2 linked regions of the Homo sapiens genome follow. The protein of the gene in region 2 interacts with the protein of the main gene of each other region in a biochemical or structural test. Each region holds a gene or a part of one and is shown on either strand. Other genes may lie near its edges.

What was found.
Region 1: of the proteins of CSN2 (region 2) and NEK9, one has a biochemical effect on the other in vitro, tested with the Homo sapiens proteins (one study listed by BioGRID).

What each region holds. Positions count from the first base shown.
Region 1 is NC_000014.9:75,124,049-75,132,139, forward strand, and holds the start of NEK9 (serine/threonine-protein kinase Nek9), read right to left. Parts: upstream 3,001-8,091; 5' UTR 2,874-3,000; coding exon 2,655-2,873; intron 176-2,654; coding exon 1-175.
Region 2 is NC_000004.12:69,953,745-69,964,499, forward strand, and holds the end of CSN2 (beta-casein isoform 1 precursor), read right to left. Parts: intron 7,264-10,755; 5' UTR 7,252-7,263; coding exon 7,201-7,251; intron 6,336-7,200; coding exon 6,309-6,335; intron 5,326-6,308; coding exon 5,305-5,325; intron 5,210-5,304; coding exon 5,165-5,209; intron 4,061-5,164; coding exon 3,530-4,060; intron 2,612-3,529; coding exon 2,606-2,611; 3' UTR 2,570-2,605; intron 1,849-2,569; 3' UTR 1,512-1,848; downstream 1-1,511. UniProt on the Homo sapiens protein: Important role in determination of the surface properties of the casein micelles.

The sequences.
Region 1 (8,091 bases), on a different chromosome or scaffold from region 2:
TACAATATTCCAGCTCAATCAGCAGCGTGGTATTGTCCATGAAGTGATTGTAGTAGGCAATAATGTTGTCGTGCTGCAGCAGTGCCAGAATAACAATCTCATTCAAGGCATCACGACGTTCCTTCTCAGACAGCCGGGTCAAATCGACTTCCTTCCACACAACCAGTGAGTCATCCTAAACACAGTAACAGAGGTATCGTGCTTTTCCTCTTGCCTGGCAGCAAATGAATCCACACCTAGATCTGTAAGCCTAGAAGGAAAACTTCCTAGAGGGGCACAGACTGACTCCTCTTATTTTTTCCTTTTAACAGACTTTAAAGGTTATGTGTACAATTTAGCATTATAATTTATTGCAGGACAGGGGAAGTAAAGCATTAAAACGTTGTTGTCATACTTAATTTGCATGATGTCAGTTCCAGGTAAAAATATGGGCTGGGGATAGATCTCAAAAAGATTCTATTGAGGATACTATGACAGACTGCTAATCATGATGGTGATTATGGCAGGGCAAGAATACTGGAGAAGCAGAGAACTGGGGAGCAATTATCTATAGCTGGTCCCAGCTTCTAAAATGAAAATACTAAACTTGCCTCTAGTTTTATAAATTTAGACTTCCCTAGTGATTTTCACCTACCCTTTCTGGATAAGAGAAGTCATGACCCCTTTTGCAACTCTATAATCTCCTCTCATACTTTTATGTATCCTGTAGCTCCTGATGTCTACTATCTTTTTTTTTTTTTTTTTTTAAGAGATAGGGTCTCACTCTGTTGCCCAAACTAGAGTGCAGTCATAGCTCATTTCAGCTTTGAACTCCTGGGCTGAAGCAATCCTCCCACCTCAGCTTCCCCAGTAGTTGGGACTACAGGCACGCACTGCCACACTCAGCTAAATTTTTTTTTTTTTTTTTTAAGAGATGGGGTATCACTGTGTTGCCCAGGCTGGTCTAGAACTCCTGGCCTCAAGCGACCCGACCACCTTGGCCTCCCAGGTGTTGGGATTATAGGCATGAGCCACTGTGCCTCGCCTCATTCTTTGCTGACCCTGCTTCCTAGCCCAGGAGCATCTCCACCTATGTAACCCTCCCCATCCTTTTGAATGCCTCTGCCAAGCCTTTACAGTGTTTTTGAAAAGACTCTGATGAAGCTTTTACTGTAACCATGTCTTTAATTTTTAGACCCCATACACTGAAATGATATTTGTTCATTCTTTTCATATCTCTACATATGCAACTTAATGCTATTTGTTTACTAACAATGGTCAACTTATTTTCCTACTGAAATATAAGCTTCTAGAGAAAAAGAGTGCTTCTGAACTTTTGTAAATTCACAGATCTAATAAATATTTGGTGATATGGACAACGCTATGCAATTTTTGGGAAGTGTAATCAAATTTAACTCAAAACCAACCCAGTAATCAAGTTCAACAGGATAATAATAAAAAGGCAATGGGCAAGATGTGAGACTTTAGTTCTAGTCCAAGATTTACTTGTAACTTAAGTGAGCAAGTCACTTAAGTATACTGTTTTAGTTTCTCTAACTAAAATATAGAAATAACAATCCTTATCTCCTCTTTCTCATTTTGAGTGCAAAAAAGAAAACAGACTACTAAGAATAACTAACTCTAACATCATACATTAACGTGGCATCAGGATAAAAAAGAACACTTAAAAATATTCTCTTGCAACCACTTCTCTCCTTCTCCATCTTTCAGCCTTAAAAGTATGCTGGCTTGGAACACACACCAGAACTGCAGATGGATTTCCGACGGATGAATCACCTTCAGCAACCCCAGCAAGTTCTCATTAAATGTTTACCCTAAAGTAAGATTTTATGATCAAATCTAGTGTATCGTTAGTTTTTGGAAGTAGAATAATCACTGCAGGGTTTTACACTAGTATATATTAACTTGGGATTCCGTGATCCATGGATCTCTCCAAAGGATGTGCATATGTGCAAATGTGTTGATGGAGGGGGCAAGATTACTTTGCTTAGGTTATCAAAGGGGTCCTTGTGCCCCCCAAATTAAGAACTAATGGCTTAGAATATACCAACAAAGTATTTCCCATGCATAAACCCTGCAAGATAAACACTGATAAAGAACCAACACACAAAGATCTTCCCAATGAGCTTCAAGAAAAGCTTCCAACTGAGTGATCACTGCTGAACTTAAAGATAATGACAAAAATAACGGAGTTGCCACGGGTGTGGGGATTTTGAAGCTATGCCCCTCCTCCTCACCCCGACCTTGGAGAACTATATATACAGCATGAGAGGAAGGAAGTTTTGGCAATACCTCACATTCGTATACCACTTTAATTTACAGAACAGAGCCTTCGTTTGATTCTCAAGATAATCTTAAAAAAAAAAGAAAAAGATGATTTCAAGGTATTATCAGTAAGCCCATTTTACAGATGGGGAAACTAAAGCTCAAGAGACGGTTAGGTGACTTAGGACAATCAAAAATGACTAGTCAAACCAATGATCTAGCCAATTTCTAGTGCCGGTGAGTGGGAAGAGTGGTGAAGACCCTAAGACATATACCCCGTGGGCGCCTAAAGCACTAAGCTCACGACGCTGGGAAAGCGGGGCCGAGAAGGAGGGACTCGGGGCGACCCGACAGCGCCAGACAGGGCGGCCGGCGCCGAGGGCCGCTACCTCGGTGCGGCGGTACAGCGTGGCTTCCCCGAAGGCGCCGCGGCCCAGGACGCGGATGGGGATGTAGTGCAGTTCCTCCTGCTCCGCCGCGCCGCCGCCGGCTCGCGGCCCCTGACTGGCGCTAGGCCCCGGACTCGAGTCCCCGCAACCCCCGGACTCGCTCCCAAAGTCCGAGTTGATGGAATCGCAGTGTCGCTCGTACTCGCCCAGCACCGACATGGCGGCGGCCGCGGGCCTTGGGGACCAGCCTGCGTATGCCCGGAGGCCCTGGCCGCGCTGCGTCCCGCTCGCTTCAGATGCCGGCCCGCGGATCCGTCAGCCCAGCAACCCCGCGAAGCTCGATGGTGGCTCCTGCCCCCCGACCCGGAAACAGTTCTCTGTGTTTCCGGCCTGGCTGAGTTTCCTCCGCCTTTGCTTACCCTCTTGGCTAGTCTAGCGGCCAAGGCTTCCCGCTTTCGGGGAAGGCCTGCAAAGTGAGGCCTCGGGCTAGGGTTGGCGGGCGCGTGGTGGGAACCGCGTGGAACCGAAGGGCTCCCACGGGAACAAGGGCATCACTGACGGTACGGCCTCTCGGGTCTATTGACCCTTCTCTGCCTCCCCGGTCCGGACTCATACAACTTGGAGGCCCAGAGGTCGTCCAGTCTCATCTTGACGTCAGGTCTGTGACAAGAGGGTGATTGGGGAAGCATTCCCAGTGTACACCTTCTTCCCCATTCCAACGTTGGACAGCATTCTTTTTTAGAGAGATAGTATAGTAAAGATAATATGGCCGGGCAAGGTGGCTCACGCCTGTAATCTCAGCATGTTAGGAAGCCGAGGCGGGCGGATCACCTGAGGTCAGGCGTTTGAGACCAGCCTGACCAACTGGTGAAACCCCGTCTCTATAAAATACAAAAATTAGCCAGGCGTGGTGGCAGGCACCTGTAATCCCAGCTACTCCAGAGGCTGAGGCAGGTGAATCACTTGAACCCGGAAGGAGGAGGTTGCAGCGAGCCGAGATCGCGCACTACACTCCAGCCTGGATAACAGAGCGAGACTTTGTCTCAAAAAAAAAAAAAATAATAATAATATAGACAGCCTAAATGTCTGCCTCCGGTCATCTCGGTCCCTGGGCCGAGTTCTTTCTCCCAGGGCCATCCTAAGTCCCTCCCTCTTCTACACAACTCCAAAAATATTTTAAGTCAACTCTCCTGACACTTTCCTTCTCCCCCGTCTCTTTTTCCAGATTCAATTTATTCTATGTGTTTTTCCAGATATTTGACCATATGATATCATGAAACATTCTTTGAGCACTTGGTGCCACACACTGTTTGGGAACAGGAAATCTGCAATAATGTTCTCCCTACCGTCAAGTAGGAAAACAGCAATACGGTGAACAATAGGTGTTCCATCAGTTATGTGACCTTGGGCAATTATGTGACCTTGGGCAACTTCTCATCTCCAAGCTTGTTTTGTTGTGAGAATGTGGTCTACATCACAGACATAACAGCTAACATTTATTGAGTGTTATGTTCTGGGTACTATGCTAAAGGTTTTTTACGTATTATCTCACATTATTATGTATTATCCTATGTATTATGTATTATGTATTATCCTAACATTCCCATTTTACAGAAACAGAGGTACCTAAGTAACCTGCTTAATGTGACAGACCTAGTAAGAGGGAGCTGGGAAGTTGAACCCAGCAATCTGAAAAAGCAGGATGTGATGGGGCTAAGAGAAAGCCATGTGCCTAGCCGGGCGTGGTGGCTCACACTTGTAATCCCAGCACTTTGGGAGGGCCGATCACTTGAAGCCTGGAGTTCGAGTTCAGCCTGGCCAACATGGTGAAACCCCGTGTCCACTAAAAATACAAAAATTAGCCAGGCGTGCACACACCTGTAATCCCAGCTACTTGGGACGCTGAGGCACAAGAATTGCTTGAACTGGGGAGGCGGAGGTTGCGGTGAGCCAAGATCATGCCACTGCACTCGAGCCTGGGCAACAGAGTGAGAACCTGTCTCAAATACATAAAAATACATTGTGTCATATCGATTTGTGAAAAGTTCCTACTTTAAGAGAGCTTACATGTAACAGAAAACCACCAGGCAATTAAAACAGTTTCTATAAGGGCTATTAAAGTGCAAGATTCTAGAGAGGCATTTAGGAGTGGCATCTGTCCAAGCCAAACTTGCTGTGTGAGTGCAGGAATATACAAAATGTTAAGTCTAAACAAAGTAGAGAGATCATTTCAGGTAGAGGCCATTCCATCTACATCCTCCTATTAATTAGAAGGCACTTTGAGGATAGGTATTGCCTCTTGTTTATCTAGATAAACTCCAGAGTTTAGTTTGGCTTAAATCTGTTAATTCTATTAACTTAATTCTGTTATTCTCGATTAACTCTGTTAAACAGAAAAGATGCTCAATAAATTGTTTCTCAGTTGAATGGGAAAAAACCAATTACTTAAAATTGGGAATGCTGACTTTCAAAGAGGCTGAATAGATTTCAGCCTAAGCTTAAAAATTCATTTTTTTCTGGCACCTTTGCAACGAGGAACTAGTTTTCTATAACGTGGTTGGCCTGAAACTGAATTGTTCTAATGATAATGCATAGATACTACAAGCCTAGAAGAAACATGTCCTATTATAGAGCAGAGACATTCCTGCTGAATTCTTCATTATATTGGATATAACTGAAACTAATTGTCTTACCTTTGAATATTTATAAGTTCAAAAATAGTCAACATTTATTCTAATGGTATAACTTTTTTTTTTTTTTTGGAGACAGTCTCACTCTGTCACTCAGGATGGAGTGCAGTGGCATGATCTCAGCACACTGCAGCCTCCACCTCCCAAGTTCAAGTGATTCTCATGCCTCAGTCTCCTGAGTAGCTGGGATTACAAGCGTCCGCCACCATGCCCAGCTAATTTTTGTATTTTTAGTAGAGAGGGCATTCTGCCATGTTGGCCAGGCTGGTTCTCGAACTCCTGACCTCAAGTGATTGGCCTGCTAAAGTGTTGGGATTACAGGTGTGAGCCACTGCACCTGGCCAAGGTGTAAAATTTTAAAGCGCCTTTGGTTGAAACCAAACTATTTCCACATTGTACTTTAACAAGTGAATGGTTAGAATGCTATTTTGCATTAGTTTCCAATTTGTGAATGGCAAATTCCCAGGGGCCATAGAGTTACTGTCAAGATGAAAGAATCTACCAAAGACCAACCCAAGTTTATACCCTTCACTGTCTGCCACGGTAGCCATTAGCTACATATAGCTACTCAACACTTGAATTGTGGCTAGTCTAATTTTAAGCTATAGATGCGGTATAGCTTGAAATGCACACTGGATTTTCAAGATTTTATATGAAAAATGGAATGCAAAACATCTCATTAACCATTTTTATATTAACTATATGTTGAAATAATATTTTGGGTATATTAGGTTAAATACACTACTAAAAATAATTTTCGGCTGGGCACAGTGGCTGATGCCTATAATTCCAGCACTTTGGGAGGCCAAGGTGAGCAGACCACGAGGTCAGGAGTTCGAGACCATCCTGGCCAACATGGTGAAACCCCATCTCTACTAAAAATACAAAAATTACCTGGGCGTGGTGGCATGTGCCTGTAATCCCAGCTACTCGGGAGGCTGGAGAATCAGCAAATTTTACCTGTTTTTTACTTCTTTAATGTGATACTAGAAAATTTAAAATTATACATGCAGCTCAACATTTTATGAGACACCACTGCAGCAGACTAAATAAATGATTTATAAAGCATGTATTGGGCCGGGCACGGTGGCTCACGCCTGTAATCCCAGCACTTTGGGAGGCTGAGGTGGGTGGATCACGAGGTTGGGAGTTCAAGACCAGCCTGGCCAACATAATGAAACTCCATCTCTACTAAAAATACAAAATTAGCTGGGCGTGCTGGTACATGCCTGTAATCCCAGCTACTCGGGAGGCTGAGGCAGGAGAATTGCTTGAACCCGGAAGGCGGAGGTTGTGGTGAGCCGAGATCATGCCATTGTACTCCAGCCTGGGCAACAAGAGTGAACTCCGTCTCAAAAAAAAAAAAAAAGAAAAGAAAAAAAAATTATACCCCAATAATGGGAACCACTACTTTACACACTATGGATTCATAATAAAATTTATTTGAGGGAGAATGGAGATAAGAGGATAAATAAGAGGCCAGCCAGTGGGTGTGCAAAGCACTTCATATTGGCTCTTGGAAAGTCGCTTTGTGAAAAATGTTCAACTGTAAGTGAAAGGAGAGGAGAAAAGACGTTTACCTCCTGGAGTGGGGTTTTGCATTGGATATGATAGGCCTAAAAAGTGAGTCCTGAGGATTCATATACCGGGGGTGGGGGGTGGGGGTCTTTTAGGAATGAAAGGCAGGGGAGATGGCTCTCTGTAGGAGTGATTCTATGCAATTGCAATTTTAATTGCAAAAACCACAATTACTTTTGTGCGAACCTAATAGTAACAGTTTCCAAAAGAGAGAAGATAAAGAGAATAAAATGCCTAGCTTACAGAACCATATTTGGTCTGAGGATGCATAATTAAGGATTCTTAATTATATATATATATATAATTTACATATATTACATACAAAATATGATAATCTTTTACTAGCTCATATAAACTATCGATCTGCAGTAACTGAAGAATAACAATATTTTTTCTCTAATTCATCAGGTATAATTTGCCATAATTTAAAAGAGAAATATGGAAGAATTATCACCAATCCAGACATAGAAGTACTCAAGAGTAACAGTACACCTAAAATGGTTTCTGCTAGCCTTTATTTGAGAAAATTTACACAAAAATCCCCAATCCAACATTTACAAGTGAATCTGTATAAATCCCATATGCCTCTTTCCCAAACAAACCAAGAAATGGCTTTATGACAGGGGTCCATGACAATGGTATAACAAGGCTTACTTAAACTGCATCATTCTCATTTATATTATACAGACCATTTTGGATAATATGCTCAAAAATGGAGGAAAGCACATAACACCCGATTTTAAAGCTTATTTGCTCTTGTGTCAGTCTTTTGTCAAAGGCAAATACATTTACTTTTTAGATAAAACCAAAGTATAATATCAATTAACTTTTAAACCAAAAGCACAAAATGTCCCAGTTGATAGTTTCGGCATGAGTAAAGGGAAGGGACATGAAAGAATGTCAACTCCTACAAAGCTTAAGTTTAGGGTCACACTTGGGAACAAAAGCATCAACGAAATAAAATATTCTCTTCTCCTATCTTCTTGACATTTTGTCACATCACAAGAACATAACTAAGAGAGTAGCTTTCGTTGCTCCTAAAAAGGGGAAAGGCACCAGTCAGAAATAGGAAAGAAAATCTTGTTAGGCTAACGGTACATGATAGAAATTTCACATTTAAAAGTTTAAAGATGGAGGCTGGGTGTGGTGGCTCACGCGTGTAATCCCAG
Region 2 (10,755 bases):
GGTGACTGTTAAGCTTTTAGTTTTGATGACAGTGGAGACTGTAAAGCTATGTATTGATGTGGACAAGATTGATTAAAGATCATGTTAGGGACTGGATTCAGATTAAGAGCTATGCTAGGCCATGCCAGGTATGATATTTTAATTAGATACTTAAATACGGAGATCAAGAAGGCAGTTGAGTACATAAGTTTTGAGTTCACAAAAGAAATAAGTCTGGAGATAGAGATTTGGAAGTCGTTAGCATAAGAATGTACTTAAAGCCAGGGAAGTGAACAGGATCAGCCAGGGTAAGGCTAATCTCTAGGGCACTCCAACCCTTAAGGATTTGGAAAAGGAGAAAATACAAGAAGGGAGACTGAGAAGTGTTTAGAGTATTAAAGAAGAAACCAAGGGTTTATTAGGTTAAGGATTTCAAATGAAAAGAAGAATGATGTTTCAAAGAAGTAAAGACGACACATTCTACCAAATAACACTGAGAGGTTGGGTAAAATGAACACAAATTAGCAATATGAAAATTATTGGTAACCTTGAAAAGAAGTGGTTTCAGTGAGGGATGAAATTTTGATTGGAGTGGGTTAATAACAGAATAAGATATGAGATATGGAAACAACCCTATGGTTACTTTAGTATGACAATTGATATAATCTAAATAATTGGGAGAGGTTTGGAGGTACAGTGTTAAGGAAGCAGATTTTTTCTTTAATGATGGGAGATATTATAGTATAAGCAGGTCTTCCATGATGCTTATGTTGTAATAAGGGCCAGGGAAACACTGGAAATATAAGAAAGATGGGATAATTGCTAGACATGAGTCACTGCATAAACTCAGGAAGATATAATTGAATGTACAAGTGGAGGAGTTGGTATAGAAAGAGAGAAAATCAATCACAATAAACAACTACTTCACAGTTAGAATTAATGGCTGTCAGAGTTTCACATCCCTTACTTTCTTCAGCGTTGCTGGCTAACACCACATTACCCAGTTCATTTTGATTTGTTAGAATGCTTTGGTGCTGTGGTATAAGCAATGTCAGCAATGTGGAGCAATAGGGATCATCTATCATTTACTATACAGTACACTCATCATGTTACTAATATGTAATCAAATCTTCAGTAAAATTCTTTGCACTATTTTATCCATGTGGCAATTAAAGCTCTTACAACATCACATAGCTACCTGTGGCAAGTTGTGTTTCAGGTTTCACATTTAAAGTTTTTTTCCCAGGGTCACCACAAAATTTAACATCCAATGCTGGATCATTTTGAAAGTGAAAGGCATAGCTATAATAATGACACTGGGAAAATAGGCATAACCCAAAACTTTCTATAGCAAATGGAGTATAAAAGCATCCTTTCTTTTCCTCCACTTTTTGATATCTTTTAATATTCAATTCAAAACATTCTATTCAATTTCAAAGCATTCTTCCAGGATTATTTTGAACATCAATAATAAATCAAAGTTAACATTAAAGAGGCCGATTAGGTTTGAAAAAAAGACAGAAGAACTGAAATATGCTTAAGAATAATTTATTGAAATGACTGGAAAGGAAATAGATTCTTAAAGAAATAAAAATAAGCACAATTCCAGAAACAATTTGTATACATATGTTTGATATGTTTGTAGCATTTCCAAATGAGTATTGAACTTCTGTGGTACTAGTTGAATTAAGATTTGGAAAATGTAAATAGTTCATGAGTCAAATTTCAAATTAAATGAATGACATAATATATAAAATAAATAAAGGGACAAAGTTCATTTTTTCCATATAAACTCATTCAAACATACTTAATTTGGGGTAACGTGATACAAAGACGGAAAAGGCATCATATTTCCAGTCTCAGTCAATTCTGTGGAATAGAGAGCAAATATATAATTAGTTATGTTATAACACGTAACTATTCAACTCTCTTCACTTTTAACTTTGGTGTGACTAATTCACAAAAGAAATTGTATTGCAAATGCATTCTGTTGCGGTTTGGAGGCATGTAAAGTTTGTTCACCAAACTTCACCAAAGTTCATCAAATATTAGTGAACTTGAAATTGTTTCAGTGAAATGTCTGGTATTTCATAATCCCAAAAGGCTTTATATCTTAGAATTGCAATGCTGTTCTCTCCTCTTTTTAACCTTTACACTTGGAGTAATTTTAACTCATGAATTAAAAGATAATTTTAAGTAAAGTAAATACAAATTTTATGAAGGCTAGGTTAGAAATAAAAATGCAAATAGGCTTTTGACAAAAGCTCAAATGTATTTCCATAAAAGTAAAATAAGTATATATTCTGTCTTTCCTAAAAATAGTGATAATCAAATGTAAGTATATAGGCCCTTGAAAGCAAGCCAGTCAAATCTGTCAATAGTACATAAATAAAATTAAAGTTATTTGAAATGCAAAAGATAGATAGTTTCAGGTCAGTAAATGATAGTCAACCATTAAATTGATAATTAATAAAAAAAGTTCTTGTATGTATGAAATTTTCACTGTATTGGACTTCTCTAGGAGAATTAAATGTAAAAAGACATCATGTATAAAAATGATCAATTAAATCTCCAAACTCCCAAAACTTACCAAAAATAAGGAGGGAAAATTAACTTTGAAATCTTCTTAGACCTTAAAAATAAACAGATACAAATAAATAAATAACCTCTTAGTAAGAAAACTTGCCTTAAGAATGTTGTAAGTAGTGAAATAAGCATCTCCGTCTTTTGCCTTCATATATATTTACAGCAAAAACCAGATGTGAAGTAAGGCTTGTGTAAAATAAATAAATAAATAAATAAATAAATAACCTCTTAGTAAGAAAACTTGCCTTAAGAATGTTGTAAGTAGTGAAATAAGCATCTCAGTCTTTTGCCTTCATATATACTTATAGCAAAAACAAGATGTGAAGTAAGGCTTGTGTAAAAGAGATGTGCACAAGGAAAATGACAGAACATTTTTTAGCTTTTTTTTCCAAATTCAATCATATTATTAAATTTAATTCCGGCTTTTGTAAGCCTTAATTACTTTATCTAAATCAGAATTCTCAACAGACTAATTAAACCAGAATTCATGCAATAGTTTTTTTCTCAACACTCAGTTTCCTCTACACAAAAAACTAGAACAATTATATCAGAATCTCTGGGTAAGCTTAGGCATTGGGATTTGTGGGGAAAAGTTCTCCAGGTGATTCTATTGTATAGGTAAGCATTAAGAATCACTTATCTATGAGAACACATGGACACAGGAAGGGGAACATCACACACCTGGACCTGTCGTGGGGTGGGGGTAGGGGGTAGGGATAGCATTAGGAGATATACCTAATGTTAAATGACGAGTTAATGGGTGCAGCACACCAACATGGCACATGTATACATATGTAACTAACCTGCATGTTGTGCACATGTACCCTAAAACTTAAAGTATAATAATAAAAGAATCACTTATCTAAACTGTTTTTTTAATTCATTTACTCTACATTTATTCTTTTATTCTACCATCACATACACATCTTGAATGAAACAGCAAAGCCAGTAAATTTGGACTTACACTAATGGGGTTATGAACTGGGGCAAGTGGCTGAGTCACAGGGTAGATCTGGTGGGTGGGGTTAAGTAGAAGTTCTTGGTTGAGCAGAAGGGCTTGAACAGGCACAGCTCTCTGAGGGTAGGGCACCACTTGCTGGGGGATAGGCAGGACTTTGGGCTGAGGAACAGACCACAGGGGCTGAGGGGGAAGTGCAAGAGTCTGAGGAATAGGCTGAGGGACCTGCTGCATCAAGGGCTGGAGCAGAGGCAGAGGAAGATGCAGATTTTCAAGATCAGTGAGTTTTGGGATTTGAGGGTCAAAAAAGGGTATCGTTGGAGATTTAAGGACAGGCATCACTCTGCCCTTAGTGTAGACAGTGTCTTTAGCTTTAGGGACTTCCATTATTTCAGGCTGAGGGACAGGCAGCACCACAGCAGGCTGAGCAAGAGGCAGAATGTTTTGTGGAAGAAAACCATAGGGGATAGGTTCAACGAATGGATAGATCAGAGGCTGTGGCTGGAAAGAGGGGTAGATTTTATCCTGGTGTTCATCCTGGAAAGAAGGAAAAAGAATCTTTGAGTCCTTGATTAAGCTATAATTGCCATTCATAATGAATTCATTTCTCTCTTTTAGACAATGATAAATGAGTAAAAAGAGAGGAGAAAATATTTCACTTATTTTGGTTAAGAAAGTATCTTGAGTCATGCGAAGAAAAATGAGTAAACTGTTTGTTGAAAAATTTTAATCCACTCACTTCATGGGTAACTCCACAGGCCAAAGTGAAATCAATGTTTGGATATTTCAGAAACACTTTTTTTAACATTTTCCTGAATTGCCTGGATAGCTGTAGCTGTACACTTTGGTCTTCAGAGAGAATTTACTTTTCAACACAGTTGTGCCAATAGTAGACCAAATTGTTTTCATACAGTGAAAAGAGATCAGTTTAAAAAGACTTAGAGGGACAATTCCAAGGTTTATTTTTGTTTTGTTTTGGTTTGATGAAAAAGAAAATCAGTCTTAATTTGTGGCTAATCTCAGGAAGTAATTTAACACCGGCCAAATTCTTACATTCCTTCCCTTGGGAGAAGATAGTCTCTTGAGTCTTTCAAGAGACATCAATTTTTTTGTTTAAATTTGATTTTAGAAATATTTTATGTGACTCCAAACAATTCATTGGTACACAAAGCAATTGAAAATTATAATTGGGTAAACATATCACCATAAATGTAATTTAATGAAATACAGGATTTTGTGTTGTCCATATGGGAATAAAGGCAATATGGGACAAATTTTACATAGGTTTTTTTACCAGCCGTATACACCTTTTCATTACCATATCCACCTTGGAAATAAGAGGATCATAGTTCCCAACCTGGAAATGTTCCCACCAATGTGTACTTGTTGAAAACAGATATACCATTAGTAATATCATTATGTATTTAGTCTGTATTCTAGAAATTAATTATGAGTTTAAAAATGCATGCATATCCTAGAAAATATATTGACTTTATCAATGTTTAATTTTTAAAGTGGTTGGTGGGTATATGGCATTTATTTTATTATCATTCTTTAGAATCAACATACACATTATAAATATTTTTGTATGTATTATACTTTATAATAATTTTAAACATATACTTATCATTAACAAATTACCTCTCCTTGCTGCTGGTCCTCATGTTTAACCTTCTCAACTTTCTGCTAAAGATATATCATATATAAAGATATGTTACCATCTGTAAAGATTAAAAGGAGGAAATTTTGAAAATGTGTACATTTTAAATGTGAAAATTTACCTTGTATTCTGTAATAGATTCCTACAGAAAAATATAAAATAAAATTAGGTTTAGTTTTAACAATTCTTACTTTGCAATATAAATCAGGAAATAAAGGCATTAATTCTTTGATAATATCATTAATAACTTTGTATAATCATTAAACTTATGTATTAAACTGTTCTATATGAGCTTGTTATGTAAAAGAAAGTCAGATGAATGCAGTCAAGAAGGACATGGTACAAAAAAAAGCAATTAATAGATGCTAATTTCTCTCTACCACCATGCTCATTCCCTGACAACAAATGATATCTAAAACCCCATCTGATTTTTAAAAAAAGAAATACTCATTGAAAATATATTCTAATAACAATTGATACATTATGATCACTTCAAATGAATCATAAGAGTTAAACACTTCCCTTAAGGATCATATAACCTTTCTGAAGAGACAGAATCTATTGATGTACCATTTACTTATCAAGTGATCACACACCCAAGAAGAGTGGTGTAAGAATAAATATCTACCTGACTCTCTCAGGTAAATTTAGGACTACACTAAATCTCGCTTATTTACTAAAGTGGCTATTGTAATTATAAAATGTGTCCTTTTTGCACGTCTGCCTACCTACTACTTAGCAAGCTCTTAACTATCACTGGCATCTCTAACTTTTCAGTTTGTACCACAGCTCCTAGTCAATGTCTGACCCATAGAAGGCCGTCAGTATATGCTTAAGGTGAATAAGTTCAGAGTAAAGAGAGTTCAAGGCAGAAAACAGGACAATATGGTTCATTAAAAAAAAAAGAAGCAAAATAACACAATTTCAAGTAGCAAGCCAATTTACAAAGTTCTAGAATGTTGTATTATCCAGATACTTATTGTCCTTAAACACACATAAAAGAAATATGTACTAGAACTTATATGTCATTAACATAGCTGCATTAGCTTAACTGCCATGATGTAACACCATAGAAAAATAGCACAGGATTTTACTGTTCTAAAATTGGGTAGAATGTTAACTTACCTCACTGCTTGAAAGGCTTTCTATGGTCTGTGGGAAAAAAAAATTGACAACCAGCTAAATCTTCTAGATCATTAGAGAATTTTACTATTTTATGGTTCATAAATTTTCTCTAAAAAAATAATCTCACCTCAGAGGATGCATTGGATTGTTCCTTCTGAAAAGATGTTTAAAAATTCAACTTCTATAGCTAACTCATTGTTAAACATGCATCCTACTTAATTTTTACATCACTTATGCAGAGCTATCTCTTTCACAAATTTGAGAAATAAAAAATGTTATATGACTTTTGAGGTTTAAAAGGTAATTACTTTAATGTCTTTTATATTTAGTAATCTATTAATATATTTTTATCTTACATTTATTAAAGACAGAGTTTTTTATGGGTAAAAGAAGAGTCACTTTAATTTGTATTAAATATTTTTATTATATTATTATTAATATATTTATGATCATGATTATGATTGTCTCTGTACTTCATCCCATGGATGTCTTTGTACAGACAGACACAGGATTTGACCCAGTGCCCTAGGCTGTAAGGTATATATACATTTTATCACTGGAATAAGATATATTTATCTAGCTTGAGAATCTTTGGAGTTGTATTTATGCAATATTATATTTCGTTGCCATTTTTATGATTTTTTATTACTTATTGATTTGTTTGCTTTTTCTTTAGTGACTAGCAGCACATTGGTGCAGGAAGCATTTGGGGCACTATAGGAAACTGTTGAGACAGTGGGTAAATATAAATGATTTTGATAGAAGCCAAGAGAATTCTCATGAAATTCTTCATTATTTATACAGTAAAAAATGTTGGTGATGTTATTCTCTACAAATAAGCATATAGTCCACTATTTATTGATTGTTTAGGAATTTTTTCTTGTGCACATACCTCCCTTGCAAGAGCAAGAGCCACCAGGCAGGCGAGGATGAGGACCTTCATGGCTACTAAGTCCTGTGAATGTAGAAAAAATGGAATGGTGGAAGATTGGTCAATTGGATATACTTTCTTATGTAGGTAAGGTTACTTTTTATAAAACAAAAAAAAAAGAGAGATAATATATAACAAAAATATCTGCATTTAGAAAATAAATAGAATAAATACTAAATAGAAGTTATATCACATGAAGGAGGTCAAAATCCATTCTGGCTTGCGATTCTCATTTTTCAAATTCCAAACTTCATTGCCAGCTATTCAGATTTTTCAGCTAACAACTCTATCCCCACTTTTAAAAAAGTCCCATTTACAGTATTGAATTTTTCAAAAGGCATAAAGAAGTTATAAATATGTATGGAAAGATTTATGCAACACATCAAAAAGCTTATCCACCATGATCAAGTGGGCTTCATCCCTGGGATGCAAGGCTGGTTCAACATACGAAAATCAATAAATGTAATCCAGCATATAAACAAAACCAAAGACAAAAACCACATGATTATCTCAATAGATGCAGAAAAGGCCTTTGACAAAATTCAACAACACTTCATGCTAAAAACTCTCAATAATTTAGGTATTGATGGGACATATCTCAAAATAATAAGAGCTATCTATGACAAACCCACTGCCAATATCATACTGAATGGACAAAAACTGGAAGCATTCCCGTTAAAAATTGGCACAAGACAGGGATGCCCTCTCTCACCACTCCTATTCAACATAGTGTTGGAAGTTCTGGCCAGGGCAATTAGGCAGGAGAAGGAAATAAAGGTCATTCAATTAGGAAAAGAGGAAGTCAAATTGTCCCTGTTTGCAGATGACATGACTGTGTATCTAGAAAACCCCATCGTCTCAGCCCAAAGTCTCCTTAAGCTGATAAGCAACTTCAGCAAAGTCTCAGGATACAAAATCAATGTGCAAAAATCACAAGCATTCATATACACCAATAACAGACAAACAGAGAGCCAAATCATGAGTGAACTCCCATTCAAAATTGCTTCAAAGAGAATAAAATCCCTAGGAATCCAACTTACAAGGGATGAGAAGGACCTCTCCAAGGAGAACTACAAACCACTGCTCAAGGAAATAAAAGAGGATACAAACAAATGGAAGAACATTCCATGCTCATGGGTAGGAAGAATCAATATCATGAAAATGGCCATACTGCCCAAGGTAATTTATAGATTCAATGCCATCCCCATTAAGCTACCAATGACTTTCTTCACAGAATTGAAAAAAACTACTTTAAAGTTCATATGGAACCAAAAAAGAGGCCACATTGCCAAGTAAATCCTAAGCCAAAAGAACAAAGCTGGAGGCATCATGCTACCTGACTTCAAACTATACTACAAGGCTACAGTAACCAAAACAGCATGGTACTTGGTACCAAAACTGATACCAAGACCAATGGAACAGGAAAGAGCCCTCAGAAATAATGCCGCATGTCTACAACTATCTGATCTTTGACAAAGCTGACAAAAACAAGCAATGGGGAAAGGATTCCCTATTTAATAAATGGTGCTGGGAAAACTGGCTAGCCATATGTAGAAAGCTGAAACCGGGTCCCTTCCTTACACCTTATACAAAAATTAATTCAAGGTGGATTAAAGACTTACATGTCAGACCTAAAACCATAAAAACCCTAGAAGAAAACCTAGGCAATACCATTCAGGACATAGGCATGGGCAAGGACTTCATGTGTAAAAGACCAAAAGCAATGGCAACAAAAGCCAAAATTGACAAATGGGATCTAATTAAACTAAAGAACTTCTGCACAGCAAAAGAAACTACCATCAGAGTGAACAGGCAACCTGCAGAATGAGAGAAAATTTTTGCAATCTACTCATCTGACAAAGGGCTAATATCCAGAATCTACAATGAACTCCAACAAATTTACAAGAAAAAAACAAACAACCCCATCAAAAAGTGGGCAAAGGATATGAACAAACACTTCTCAAAAGAAGACATTTATACAGCCAAAAATCACATGAAAAAATGCTCATCATCACTGGCCATCAGAGAAATGCAAATCAAAACCACAATGAGATACCATCTCACACCAGTTAGAATGGCGATCATTAAAAAGTCAGGAAACAACAGGTGCTGGAGAGGATGTGGAGAAATAGGAACACTTTTACACTGTTGGTGGGACTGTAAACTAGTTCAACCATTGTGGAAGTCAGTGTGGCGATTCCTCAGGGATCTAGAGCTAGGAATACCATTTGACCTAGCCATCCCATTACTGGGTATATACCCAAAGGATTATAAATCATGCTGCTATAAAGACACATACACATGTATGTTTATTGCGGCACTATTCACAATAGCAAAGACTTGGAACCAACCCAAATGTCCAACAATGATAGACTGGATTAAGAAAATGTGGCACATATACACCATGGAATACTATGCAGCCATAAAAAATGATGAGTTCATGTCCTTTGTAGGGACATGGATGAAGCTGGAAACCATCATTCTCAGCAAACTATCGCAAGGACAAAAAAACCAAACACCACATGTTCTCACTCATAGGTGGGAATTGAACAATGGGAACACACGGACACAGGAAGGGGAACATCACACACCGGGGCTGTTGTGGGGTGGGGGGAGTGGGGAGGGATAGCATTAGGAGATATACCTAATGTTAAATGACGTGTTAATGGGTGCAGCACACCAACATGGCACATGTATACATATGTAACAAACCTGCACTTTGTGCACATGTACCCTAAAACTTAAAGTATAATAATAATAATTTCAAAAGACAAATAAAATTTAAAAAAAGATTTATTCATTAACTTAAAAATATTTCTTTAGAATCTGTTCTTGCCAGACACTGTCTAGGGACCAGGACCGCAGCAATGAACAAAATATTACAGTCCTGATATTACTCCCTCATGGAGCCTCAGTTCTACTGGAAGAGACTGATCAAGAAAATGTGTACAAAAAAGTCACATTTTATTTTTACCTTTTTTCTTTTCACTAAACGGTTACCATGACTATTTTAGTTTATTTCTCCTCATTTCCAATAAGACTGAGGTTTTCATTTTAACACTTTCCTTATTTGTGTCACTATCCAGAGACTTTATTGGACTATTGAGTTTGTTTCTTCTCCGTTTATATTCATCTTCCCCACATAGCTAATAATGTCTGTTCTCCTTTATGCCACATGACTTTAGATATTGTACACTAGGCTTCTTCTCTTCTCTTTATTGAAATGTACACACGATTCTCTTGATGATCCGCCAAGGGGTCAGAGCCTCTTGCCCACTGCTAAGCTTGGGACTACCTCTTCTTGTGAAATATATGTTAATATTTTTGACCAAAATATACTAAATCATCTCCTTGTTATGTGTTCTTACATTTTTTTGTAATTTATTTCAAAATAATGTTTGTGCCACAATATTACTCACCACTCAAATCTTCATTCTCAGATATTGAAACTCAATTTTTGAACTAAATTTTTGAACTAAAATACTTCATCAAAAAAGTCTTTAATTTATTTGAGAG